Homo sapiens: one gene and its partners. The protein of the gene in region 2 purifies or fractionates together with the protein of the main gene of each other region. This does not show direct contact. Each region holds a gene or a part of one and is shown on either strand. Other genes may lie near its edges.

What was found.
Region 1: the proteins of SSBP1 (region 2) and CEP170 purify together in Homo sapiens (co-immunoprecipitation; one large-scale study listed by IntAct). This does not show direct contact.
Region 3: the proteins of SSBP1 (region 2) and POC5 purify together in Homo sapiens (co-immunoprecipitation; one large-scale study listed by IntAct). This does not show direct contact.
Region 4: the proteins of SSBP1 (region 2) and MRPL39 purify together in Homo sapiens (tandem affinity purification; one large-scale study listed by IntAct). This does not show direct contact.

What each region holds. Positions count from the first base shown.
Region 1 is NC_000001.11:243,161,109-243,164,876, reverse strand, and holds part of CEP170 (centrosomal protein of 170 kDa), read left to right. Parts: coding exon 1-593; intron 594-3,768.
Region 2 is NC_000007.14:141,748,309-141,751,207, forward strand, and holds the end of SSBP1 (single-stranded DNA-binding protein, mitochondrial precursor), read left to right. Parts: intron 1-2,002; coding exon 2,003-2,046; 3' UTR 2,047-2,180; downstream 2,181-2,899.
Region 3 is NC_000005.10:75,676,358-75,679,532, forward strand, and holds part of POC5 (centrosomal protein POC5), read right to left. Parts: intron 1,594-3,175; coding exon 1,417-1,593; intron 1-1,416. UniProt on the Homo sapiens protein: Essential for the assembly of the distal half of centrioles, required for centriole elongation. Acts as a negative regulator of centriole elongation.
Region 4 is NC_000021.9:25,593,809-25,597,576, forward strand, and holds part of MRPL39 (large ribosomal subunit protein mL39), read right to left. Parts: intron 3,607-3,768; coding exon 3,494-3,606; intron 151-3,493; coding exon 85-150; intron 1-84.

The DNA of each region.
Region 1 (3,768 bases), on a different chromosome or scaffold from region 2:
CTCTAGTGTACCTCATTCTGCCATCTCTGATATTATGTCATCTGATCAAGAAACTTACTCTTGTAAACCTCATGGACGGACTCCACTTACCTCAGCTGATGAGCATGTACATTCCAAACTGGAAGGAAGTAAAGTAACGAAATCTAAGACTTCTCCGGTGGTATCTGGTTCATCTAGTAAATCAACCACCCTTCCAAGGCCACGACCTACCAGGACTTCCCTCTTGCGCAGAGCACGACTTGGTGAAGCTTCAGACAGTGAACTTGCTGATGCTGACAAAGCATCTGTTGCTTCTGAAGTATCCACAACAAGTTCTACATCAAAACCTCCCACAGGAAGGCGTAACATCTCTCGGATTGATTTATTGGCTCAGCCTCGTAGAACACGACTTGGCTCACTGTCAGCTCGTAGTGACTCTGAAGCAACAATTTCTAGAAGTAGTGCCTCTTCGAGGACCGCAGAAGCCATCATTAGAAGTGGAGCCAGACTAGTACCATCAGATAAATTTTCTCCTAGAATTAGAGCTAACAGTATCTCTCGACTCTCAGACTCCAAGGTCAAAAGTATGACCTCAGCTCATGGCTCTGCTTCAGGTAAATTGGATCCAGATTTCTAATAGCATTAGCATGTTGTATATTTGGGGGCTCCTTTTTTTTTTTAAAAAAAAAAGTAAGGTTCTAGTTGTCTTCCCAAGATACTCATTCAAAACAAAAGTTATGATATACGGGGCAGCGGCGGTGGGGGGTCTATAAAACAGTTTTATTTAGCATAGTAAATGGAAAATCAGAAGTTATACATACTTCCAATTAGAGTCCTGGCGCAAAATAGTGATTTCAAAACTAGGAATTCATTGAGCTGATTTAGGAGTTTTAATTTTCCAGTTGGTGCTATATTTGGATGTGTGTGTCAAAATTAAATTATCTGGAAGTATCTGGTTTAAAGTATAGGAATTAACATTGTGCTTCTAAAAGCATGTGTTTAACCTTTAAATATCCTCACATAATTCAAAGCCCTTAAGAACTTGAAGAAAAGCAGTATATGCTTTATTACTCCTTTCAGAGTTAAATGAAATAATCAATGTTTTCTTTTTTTTCCCTACCCATTTTGAAATGTCTCACATACTTTACCTATACTTTTTAAAGTTAAATCTGTTTATAGTTGGAGCAGGTGAAAACTAACCTTAATTTATTTCAGTGGAAGAAGATGGATTCATGGGGAATCACTCAGCGTATATTGGCCAAACTGGGCTGTAGAAATTTAACTGGTTATGAGCATTATCTCACAAAGTGCTGTTATATCATTTAACTCTAGTAATTAGGTGTAATTGAATATAATAACTACAAAAACTACTTACTTTCCACCAGAATTTAACTGATGCTGTTATATTTGTTTGCTTATGTGCTTTGTATTCAGAGCTGAGGCCATTGAGATACATGTGTGACCAAAGAGTAATGAGGTGGATATTTGTTTGTGTCCTATATGCATGTTCTCATTACTTCATAATGAGCCTCATATGTGGACGTGGCTGCAAAGGCCAGTGTGGGAGGCCAGCTGTTACAACGGACATGAAGATGTGTGATTATTTTCAGTAGGCAGACATCTAAGTAAGCCCTAAGTCTTGAGTTAAGAGTGGAGGGGAAGTTGATATGAAATTTCATCTTTTTATTTTTGATTGGTTTACATCTACCACACCATCTCCTACAAGACCCTAAAGGAACAGTACTTTGCATATGATACTTTTTTCACTTTTCTTCCTCTTTTCACTGCTGCTTTCCTCCACTCCATTCACCTGTATCTCTTTGCTGGTCAGTGGGTTTGGTAATGATGGTCACTGTCTATGGTAGAAATGGACGTAGGGTGAAGCCAGATAGCATATAATCATGATTCCAAAAAAAATAGACAACATTTTCCTTATTACCCCAGTCCTCATTTCCACACTTGAAGCTTTGGTTGGTGGTTCACAAATTTATTGCCAAATATTTTAAAACTAACTACTACATTTTGGTTTATTTTCATTCTGTTTTTGGTTATGGCTCTACTTCAATTCACATTTCATCTGTGCTGCATTTCCTGATGAAATTTCTTCTGCTGTACTCCTTGTTTTATCACCTCATCTCCATTAAGATATGTATGTATTTTCCTGTCTTAACATAATTTCTATGTTACCAGATAGCTTGGAGTACCTCTTAACACATGATGTGGTTTTATTCCTCGATATTTAGGATAAGGCTTGAGATGCAAGCTAAATATGATTACTTCAGCAAGTCTAAGAAACAACTGTAAGATGCTATATATAAAGACAGATTTCATTTTCTGCTTCTTTGAATACAGAACTTGATAAATACTCAGTTTTCTGTGTCCAAAAATAACCTTGAATTGTGTATGAAATTCCCTAGGACACATTGATGTATATGATTTTAGTCTTTTCATACTTACTAGCAGTATATTAAATAATTAGAATCATGGAATTTAAAAGTTAGAAGGGTTATTCTCTTAAGGGAACCAAGGCCAAGAGAGGAAATAACCTGCCCTGGGCACATGGCAGTGGCAGGGGCAGAATAAGAATCAAAGACTTTTAATCCCCAGCCTGTTTTTCTACCGTATCTATTCTAGCTCTAAGAAATAGTTTCAGTGTTTACTTGTATGCAAGCTTCCAGAAGACAGCTAGAATCTACTGGATTATTATCAGGAGTATATGCAAGGTCAATATACAATATAAAGGTTTTGGTATTGTTTACTAAAATCTTTGCAGTTCTGATGTTTTACCCAGTTTATATTCTCTATTCCACCTTATGAGTGTAAAGCCATATTGTAATCTAGGATTGTATATTCAGATTCTCTCAAGATACCCACTTATAGTATTAGACCTTATCTAGGACAGTGGCCAGGATCTTTCCTTCAGTGAGAACATACTATAATAGCTGTATGGAAAAGGTGGTCAAACAAACAAACCTACCTGTTTGATTTTGCTAATTTGGTGCCTTTGATATTATAACATTTCTTTTTAAGATAATTATAATATTTTGAATGGAAAAAGAAAAGCAAAATTTTAACTTTTGAAACATGATTTAAAAGAATGTTAAATCATGCCGATCAGTGTTGCTGTGCACAGTATAAACTTTAAAGACCTTGGAAATAATCTGAACCTAGCACTTGTGATATTGTCCCAATTGGATATGTAAAAATAATTCCATAATGTTTCCAATTCCATATTTTAGATGATGTCTCTAAAATATTTTTAGGCCAGCACAGTGTTTCATGCCTGTAATCCCAGTATTTTAGGGGAGGCCAAAGTTAGAGGATTACTTGAGCCCAGGAGTTCAAGGCTGCAGTGAGCTGTGATCACACTACTGCATTCCAGCCTTGGACAAGTGAGACCCTGTCTCCATTAAAAAAAAGTTTTTTTTAAAGAAATGTATGTGATAAAAATAGAAGATTGGAAATCTCAGATTTAGCAATATGAAGAGAAGAGTTCTGTATGTTTCTCTGATGTAATTTGCAATTTGCTTCTAGGAGTTTAACTAGTTTTTTTTTCCCCAAAACATTCTTTCAGTGCTTCTTTTTTTTTTTTTTGAGACGGACTCTTGCTCTTGTTGCCCAGGCTGGAGTGTAATGGCACAATCTCGGCTTACTGCAACCTCTGCCTCCTGGATTCAAGTGATTCTCCTGCCTCAGCCTCCCAAGTAGCTGGGATTACAGGCGTGTGCCACCATGCCCGCCTAATTTTTGTATTTTTAGTAGAGGAGAGGCTTCACCATATTGGGCAGG
Region 2 (2,899 bases):
AGTGTTCAAATTTCCTTGATAACTTCATAAACATTCATACATTATATTACATGATTTCTACCTTAAGTCTCTTAGATTTGCCTTTTATCTTTCTTCTTTCCTTTGCTCCAGAGTTCATGTCTTAACCACCATACCTTATTAATAATTTATAATTTGTATAGAATGCTCACATGGTTTCTTACTGCTAAGTTTCTTTGAAAGTGTATTAACCTTGAAAAGCAGTGTAGGTATTTTCCTACCCTCCTGTGGGTCCCAATATAAACCACAAGTGTGGGCAAACTTTAGATTGTTCGGATTATTGAGTTGTTACTAATAAGCCAAACGGAAGCATTTCAGATGATATGCTGTTTTGTTTTTTTTCCTTGTCACTAGGTTCCACTAGCACAGTCAGTTTACTTTAGGTTTATGTCTAATGGTAAAATTGAAGAGCTCTTCAGTGACATTTGAATTGAAGAAAATAGAGTTTATTGGTTGATCTGTTTTATTGGTGATTTTTTTTTCTCCTAGGGATCCTATCTGTAACTAAAAAACCACCACCAGTGGATGGCACTCTTGGCTTTTTCCACAGTGATATTAATTCGAGTAGTTTGTTCTGAAGTAACCGTTCTGGACCAAAACATTCTAGTTTTTGGAAGACTATGGTCATGAACAAATATTCAGTCCTTGGTGGATAATTTTATAGTTACAAGAATCTTTTGGAATTATAAAGGAAATGCAGTCATTCCTCCATGTCCCTTGTTTCTGCATCTGTGGATTCAACCAAGCACAGATTGAATATATGTGAAAAAAAGAAACCAATAAAAATAATACAACAACAACAAAAATACAAGTGAAACAATACAGTGTAACAGCTGTTAACATAGCATTTACCTTGTATTAGATATTGTAAGTAATCTAAAGATGATTTAAAGTATATAAGAGGAAGTACATAGGTTATATGTGATTACTATACCATTTTATATCAGGGACTTGAGCATTGTGGATTTTGGTATCTATAGGGGTCCTGGAACCAGTCCCCCAATGGATACTGAAGGATGACTACTACTTGCCTCTGTTCTTTTGTTTATTTTTAGCTAACTCCCTCTGGAACAGCATTTTAAGAGCAACGTCTGATATTTTTGGATAAAAATGCTAACTCTGTGATGTTGATTCATAAAATGTTCCCAAGAATTGGTATATTAAAATTATTCTGGGCCAGGTGCGGTGCTCATGCCTGTAATCCCAGCACTTTGGGAGGCCAAGGCGGGCAGATCACTTGAGGTCAGGAGTTCAAGACCAGCCTGGCCAACATGGTGAAACCCTGTCTCTATTAAAAATACAAAAGTTAGCCAGGCATGGTGGTGCACACCTATAATCCCAGCTACTGGAGAGGCTGAGGCAGGAGAATCGCTTGAACCCAGGAGGCAGAGGTTGCAGTAAGCTGAGATTGCACCACTTCACTCCAGCCTGGGTGACAGAGACTCCATCTCCAAAGGAAAAACAAAAAGTTATTCTGTATTGTAATTTAAAAATAAAATTTCTTCTATTTGAATTTTTAAAGTTAAAAACGTAAGTAAATCCTGTCATTGCTAACAGGGCCACATATGGACTCTTACTCTTTCCTCTAGACCCCCAGAGTGTAGAATGTGATACACTTTTGTCCTTTTCTCTGAGGATGTGCTGCCTAGTGTCGTGGAATCTGCCTGACCATTGCAAGCATCCAATTTTGTGACCAGTTCTTTTGCAGGAAATTGTTTCTGAGAAGACTGGAAGACAAGAAATATCCCACCTCTTCTAACAAGATCTGAATTGTTCGAAAAGCAGCCAGTGCCTAACTTGTAGCTCCACTTATGCCAACTGTATATATACCTCTCGTGAGCATAGCAAGTGATTTAATATTTTGAAAAGATGGCTAAAATCCTTTTAATGAACAGCACTAAAGTTATATGTATTAGAGGAGAATTATTGAATGAGATGGAGAAAGAGTTCTGAAATTAATATTTACATTTTGGCTTTTTTACAGATAATATTATATTTCTGAGTGACCAGACGAAAGAGAAGGAGTAGAAAGGATGATTCTTCTTTGGCCATCATTTGGTACAGTCTCATTTCCAAGTCATGTATAATCTTTATGGCTTCCAAGGACAAGAATTAAAATACTCTTTTACGTAAAATGAGTAATAATCTTTTTTCTGACTGTCGTTCTCGCTCTCCTTTTTGTGGTATAATCTTGGTAGCTACTATCTGTTATGGCATTTACTAGTTGTTTATTCTTCTAAGGGTGGTTTCTATGTACAGGTATACAAAATAGTAAACTTTCAGGCTCATTTGTGTTATGGCAAAGGGATAAATATGCTTTGGGAAGGTCTCCTGGTTTTTGTATACACTTTTATTACAATATTGATTTGTCCAATCAGTGAATTTACTGAGCATCACTGTATGTGAGACATTTATCCCATATTTGTAAATATTGATTTTCTTAACGTTTTGCTCTGTAGACATGAAGGCAAGGACTGAATCTTCTGTTTGCCTGCACTTTAAACCATGCTTTACATAGAATAGCCACTCAGTAAGCATTGATAGATGAATCATCCCAATGGGATTCTAAGCTTCAGCTCAAATTGAAGGGAGTTGCTGAGCAGTGGTTAGTGTCTAACCTAAACATCTTTAAGACTAACCTACCTTCTTCATATCTTTTGTTTTTGGACAGTTTCATTAGTAGCATTGATGAAACATAGTTTACCAGCAATAAGGACCTGAATAATTAGAGATGAAATCGTTCATCTCCAGGTGATGCCACAGGAGCTGTAGTTCTGTTCTTTCTCTGCCCCTGTTATCTGTGGGGAAAAGAAAGAGAGATCAGACTGTTACAGTGTCTATGTAGAAAGAAGTAGACATGAGAGACTCCATTTTGTTCTGT
Region 3 (3,175 bases), on a different chromosome or scaffold from region 2:
CTGTCCAACTTATGAAACATGAAACCTAAGATAATTCTAAAATAAATCCTCTGTCATCTCCATGTCTCTATCTGGACTTGGTGCTTCTATCTCCAGCCTTCCACCTCGCTAAGGTCCCACTTCACCTGAAGTTCAGTTCAAATCAATCCAGCTTGTCTTCATTTAATCATCTAGTGCCCAGCTAGTACTCGGGAAAAAAGGATTTAAAATCATTCCATATACTTTTTTTTTGCTAATACTTAGAAAGTACACAGGAACGTTGTCCGATGCTGAGAATTTATAGAGGGCATTCTCTTTTAAAATCAGTCCCTGAAATCAGCTGGGGGTGGTGGCGGGTGCCTGTAATCCCAGCTACTCGGGAGGCTGAGGCAGGAGAATTGTTTGAACCCAGGGGGCGGAGATTGCAGTGCGCCAACATTGCGCCATTGCACTCTATCTAGCCTGGGAGACAAGAGAGAAACTCTGTCTCAAAAAAAAAAATAAATAAAAAATAAATAAATAAATAAATAAATAAATCCTTGTTTTTCTTTAGGGATGTTCTTATCACTCTTATTATACTTTTTGAGATAATTGTTGATTCGTACACATTTGTAGGAAATAATTCAGAGATATCTCATGTATCTTTTTCTAGTAACTTTCAGTAAGTTAAATTTGCTTATGGTTTTATAGTTTATAAAATGCCTTAATACATCTCGTTTAATTTTCACATTATCTCATTTAATCTTGAATCCTAACAATAACCCAAGGAGCTAACTATTTTTATTAACCCCATTTTACAGAAGAGAAAGTGGAGGCTCAAATATTTTACTTGATTTGTATATATCACAAAGCCAACAAGTAGCAAAGCTGAAGCACTAACTCGGGTTTTAAAATTTTTGCTTCAAATTCAATGCACCTTCTTTATATCACATGCATTTACTGCAAGTTGAATTTTGTTAAACTAAAAACATGCTGACAATTGTACTGAAAAAAGGGGAAGACTTTTTTTAAAAAAGGACCAAAAATTAAAAACTATAAATGTAGGGGAGTTTTCTTGTAATCAAATATCTGCTACATGAGCAGCTAGTGAGTGAACAATTTTTGTCTCTTTTTAAACTGATAATAAAGCATTTACATATTTTACTCTTTTGACCACAAACACACTGGATTACTTTTAGTATTTTATAATTTTTACAGTTTGGAAGAAACGATGTTTCTGAAATTAATTTCCCAACAGCAGAAACGTAGATTTATAGCAGGTTTGAGAAAAACAAGTATATATATTAAAAAAAAAAAAAAAACTGTAACAGGAAAAGGCAGAACAAGTACCAGTCATCATAAATTTTTATCTTCTCAACATGTTATGTAAGTGTTTACTAGTCTATGAACTCTCAGGAAAAAGACTTTTTGACAAAAGGTCATCAAATGTGGACTCACCACTGTGACTGGATGATGTTTTTCCACAACAACTGAGCTCATGGGAGGAGAAACTCCCATTATAGCTAAACTGCTGCTAATTCTATTTTTTGAAGCAAAATCACATCTTCCTGTGATCCGGGCTGTAATAGTTCTTCCTGCTTTCTGTTGTGCAGAGGTTACAACTCTTGGCACATACTAAGAAGAAAAAAAAATAAAAGAAGTAACAAGGTGGCAGAAAATCCACAGCAAAATCTATTGATTCCATAAATTATGAAGAATACACAGGCACTTAAAATAACTGTATGTTCAACCAACTTTAACATGGAAAAAACAAAATCACAAGACGAAAAGCAAAACAAAACTGAACACCCCAAAATATCCCTTTAACCTGAGTATGCCAACGATTTTATAAGATTTTAGAAACTTAAAAAACCAACTTTTTTTTTTTAAATGATAGATTTATAGAAAGACACAGAGATCATATTGAAAAGTACTGTGTGCTCTTCACCCAGTTTCCTGCCATGGTTACATCTGACATAATTAGAATATAACAAAGTCAAAACCAGGAAGCTCACCATGAGATAATGCCTGTGTATAGATCTCTGTCATTTTATCACCTAAGTTCCTGTTAACTATCACTCAATCAAGATACAGAATACTCATCACCACGAAGATCTCCCTCGTGCCACCCTTGACAGTCATATCCATCTCTCTGTTCCTTCCCCAACCATCCTTAACCTCTGGAAACCATTAATCTGTTTTATGGACTCTTTGATCCTTAAGCATAATTAATATTATCATTACACATATGCTTCTGTGTTCTGCCTTTTTTCCTTCTCATTTTATTAATATACTTTTTTTTACGAGGTAATACAGAGACCTGCTATAGTTCTTAATGAGATGGTTTTTATACCAACATACTACTTTGTCTTTCTTTTTCTATTACATTTAGCACATTTTGCAAAAGAAAAATCCTCTTTTGAGAGTTACTTCTGTATAATAAAAATATATTGCAAACAATGGAACGATCATATCAAAAAGTATTATCAGCTTTTATAGCTTTTGCTGCTTATCGCTGGATAATACTCCAGAAAAATATTTACAGCAGGAATAACACGTAAGTGGACTATTTTTCCACTGTCAATCAATTACACAGCCGCCTGTTTAAGTCTGAGGTGAAATCTACTATTCAAGTTGTGGTTCTTTATTAATGTTTCATATTTGTATTCCATTTTGTCAACTATTCATCTTATTTGCTAAGAATTGAAAGGATATTAATATTTAAATTTAATAGTTCCTGACGAGTACTAAACTCATTTAATAATTATAGATACTTATCTCAGAGTGTAAACGATTTCCCCATTTCATGTATTTGTCTTAATTTTCAATGCACATCCATTTTTTTAAGTTGTGGTTAATCCTGTCATTAATTTCCTCTTGCTTCCATGATGAAACCAAAACCAGCTTTGGACAGCTGAGGTAGTTATATTCTTATAACATTTACTTATTTTGGCTTAGCTTATTAAAACATTTGAAATTCCAGTGTGAAGTATTAATCTAAATTCATTTTTTCTCTAAACAGTTTTTCCAAAGGCATTTATTAAGTATCAATCTTTTCCCGATTATTATAGTTCATCTGTGATTCTCCATATAGCTGCATCTAGCTACACACAGTCACAGCTGTATACTGAAATGGGAAGAGAGTGGGCTTCAGGAGAGATGTCTCTGGGAAAATTAAAATGACAGAGTATTGATGTTTTTGGAAGACCCTATGGAA
Region 4 (3,768 bases), on a different chromosome or scaffold from region 2:
TTTTTTGGTCATATGCTTCATTCAGATAACAATAAAGCTAAGCCTTACTCTAACATAGCAGCCAGTTTTTAGACTTTTACTTACCTGTGTAGCTTGACTATTCTCTCAGGGTTCTGAGATGCCTTCTCTTCTATGAAATCTACTTTGTACCTGAAAAGCAGCAAAGAAAAAAACATTTTTTTAACTCAAAATATGTAAAAAGGTGTTTAAAGATACCTCCCTTTCTCTTCCTCTTCAGCCATACTTTCTGAGAGTAGGTTACACTTGGAACCTCCCTTTAATCTGGCCACAGCCCCATGACTCTGCCAAACTGTTCTCAACAAAGTCACAGACCTGCTTGGTGTCAACCCAGTGGACATTTTTTGGTCCTCATTTTCTTAATACCAATGCTCACCTCCACTTCTCAATGTGTTCTTTCTTTCCATTTTTATTTCTTTGTTCTTTTTTTTTTTTTTTTTTTTGAGGCAGGGTCTTACTCTTATCACCCACCCTGGAATGCAGTGGCATAATTATAGCTCACTGCAGTCTCAAACTTCGGGCTCAAGCGACCCTCCTGCCTCAGCCACCCAAGTAGCTGGGACTACAGGTGTGAGCCACCATGCCGGGCTAACTTTTTTTGGTAAAGATAGGGTCTTGCCATGTTGCTCAGGCTGGTCTCAAACTCCTGGTGTCAAGCAATCCTCCTGCCTCAGTCTCCCAAAATGCTGGGATTATAGCGATGAACCACCACATCCAGCCTCAAAGTGCTCTTTCCATGGGTATCAGTGGCATTCCTTACTGCTTGTTATTTTACATCTCTGGCCACTCCTGTCTTTCTCTACCCTTTGAGAATTCTATCCTACACCCTCTTTTCACGCTAAGCATCCTCCCTAGGTCAGCCCCTTGAGCTACAACTTATGTAGTTGTATGTCCTATATCTCTGCTTCTAATCTACCTACCTCTTCTGACCACCAAACTGTATATCCAAGACCCATTTGGACATCCTCTAGGATGTTCCACAAGCACCTTACCCTGAAATTTGCAAACTGCACAAATTACCACCTCTTTCCCCGCCCAAACTTGTTCTTCCTCCTGAATTTCCTGTCTTAGTACGATACCACCAACCACCCAGGTGTCCATGTGAAAAACCTGGGAGATTTCCTTGATTCCTTTCTCCTACCATATCTCCTTTATTCAATTCATTATCAAGTTGTCAATTTGACTGCCCAGTATCTCTCAAATCTACCCAATTCTGTCAGTATAGCTAAAGGCACAGATGAAACTGCACAGCCCAGGTTCAAACCATGACTTTACCATTTACTATTGAGAGCTTTGTCTGTTTACCTCAGGGTGCTAAACAAGTAATATGTGTAGGTGCACCACAGGTGTATGCACAATTATGTGGCAAAGTTAGGGAACACTGGTTTATGCAAAAACACCCACTGACTGCTACAGTCCCCCAGGCACTAATAAGGGTGCCAATTCCCTTGAATACTTATCCCTCCTGACCCACCTCCAAGAGATGCTCCTGTCCCCTGAGAGTCAAAGCCACAAAAAGGTCCCACCCTTACTCCTGCAGCAGAAGGACTCAATCACTGACCCACCTTCAATGAACCAACTCTTTTGTCCTATCAAGCTTCCTCCAGAATTATCCCCTTCCTCCTACCACACACTCAACTAAGTTACAAAAGTCCCAGAAGCCGCTACCAGTCCTTGACAGTTAGAGGAATGGGAAATCTCAATGTGTACTGAATGGAAGTCAAAAGTACACTGTCCAGTAAAGTACCATGGTGCACTTAAATGTGATTAGTACTAGTTAAAATGTGCCTTAAGTGTAAAACACATACCAGGTTCTGAAGATTTAGTGAAAAAGAATATAAAATAACATCAATATTTTAATATTGATTACACTGAGTAACATTTTAGATGTATCATTTAAATAAAATCATTAAAATTAACTTCAACTTTTGTTTTGACTTTTTTTCAATGCAACTACAGAAAATTTCAAATTATACAGATGTCTCATATTATATTTCTTTTGGGCAGCATGTGCCTAGACTTTTGTCACAGAGAGTGACTTCACGTGTTCAGATAGTCCAAAGAATTTTCTTGTCGAATCAATGCTATAAATGGTGGTTTGGTTCTACAATACTATCTGTACTCTAGTTAAAACAGTACATTACAACTGGTTTCTAAATCCACTGGTTCCAGGACACGCTAAAAATGTTTCAAGAAAAAGTGTTTCATGGGCAAATATATTTGGGAAATTTTCAATGTCCACTTTGGGAGACCGTTGAGTGCGATGAGTAAAAATTTTTTTTTTTTTTTTGAGACGGAGTCTCGCTCTTTCGCCCAGGCCGGACTGCAGTGGCGCCACCTAGGCTCACTGCAAGCTCCGCCTCCCGGGTTCACGCCATTCTCCTGCCTCAGCCTCCTGAGTAGCTGGGACTACAGGCGCCCGCCACCACGCCCAGCTAATTTTTTGTATTTTTAAAAGAGACGGGGTTTCACCGTGTTAGCCAAGATGGTCTCGATCTCCTGACCTCGTGATCTGCCCGCCTCGGCCTCCCAAAGTGCTGGGATTACAGGCGTGAGCCACCGCGCCCAGCCGAGTAAAATTTTTTAAGCCACTGTTCTTCAAACTCAGCTTAACACAGTACATGGTTTCACATGTCAATTAACATCCTATAGAAGAATACTATAAGACAGACTGCTTTGAGAAATGCCAAGCTATAAAGTATGTGTCAAAAACACACTCATAACCCAATATATTTACGATAACCTATCCCTATGAGAATTTGTAATTCAACTTCTATATACCTAAAGAAATTCTAATCAGTAAACTTTCACAATTCTTAGGTGCATATTTTGGCTTCAGACTCTGTTATTTTTTTTTTTTTACAGCACAGGTTTCTCTTTCTAGTTAGTTCTAATATTGTATTAGATTAATGTTAAAATTTAGCTCATGTTCTTACAACTGGTAGTAGAAGGTGAACTGAAAGTTTTCTGAGAACTGAGAAGCCAGGCAGGAATTAAAATGTTAAAGAAAATCCATCAAATGAATAATTCACATGCAGAAGATTAAGACCTGGCTGTGTAAACATTTTACTTCAGCTGTCAGCCCCCTCCCAAACTGCTTGCATTTTCAATCTTATCAGTGTCATTTTAAGTGTGGAGGGGTAGGAGAGAAACACTGCCAAATACACACAATTATATAGTCGCTTAACGTACATTATCACTTCACACTAGAAAGAAAAAAGGGAAACATGCCACTATGTTGATATAATGAGAAAGGCTGGTCCAAGAACAGAGAAGTAAAACAAAGTGAGAAAATTATCAAGGGACATGGGTAACATTTTCCTCAGCGAAATAAATGAGATCACAGAGGTCTCAGACTGGAAAATAATACACTGTCACATGTATATCAAATATAAAAATTTTTAAGACCTGAATTTTCTTTATTACATATAATACTGGGAGAGTTAGCCTTGATTTAAAGAAAGCCAACACTTACTTGCTGTGTTGAAATATTTCCAATGCCACTTTTGCTTCAACTTCCAGAGTTTCAAATGGAAGATCTTTATAAATTAAAGCATGAGCATCTTTTGTGAAGGAACGTAAGTTCTCCTTAAAAATGAAAGTAATAACCTTTAGTAACAATTCACTGAAAAGCATTTCTCCATAAGCCAGTTGAAACAAAACTCTATGCTTAGTACTGCAAATCCAACTAAAATAAAAGATAAAATCAAATTTGTTAGAACAGAAAGTTACTAATTTGCAACAACTGAA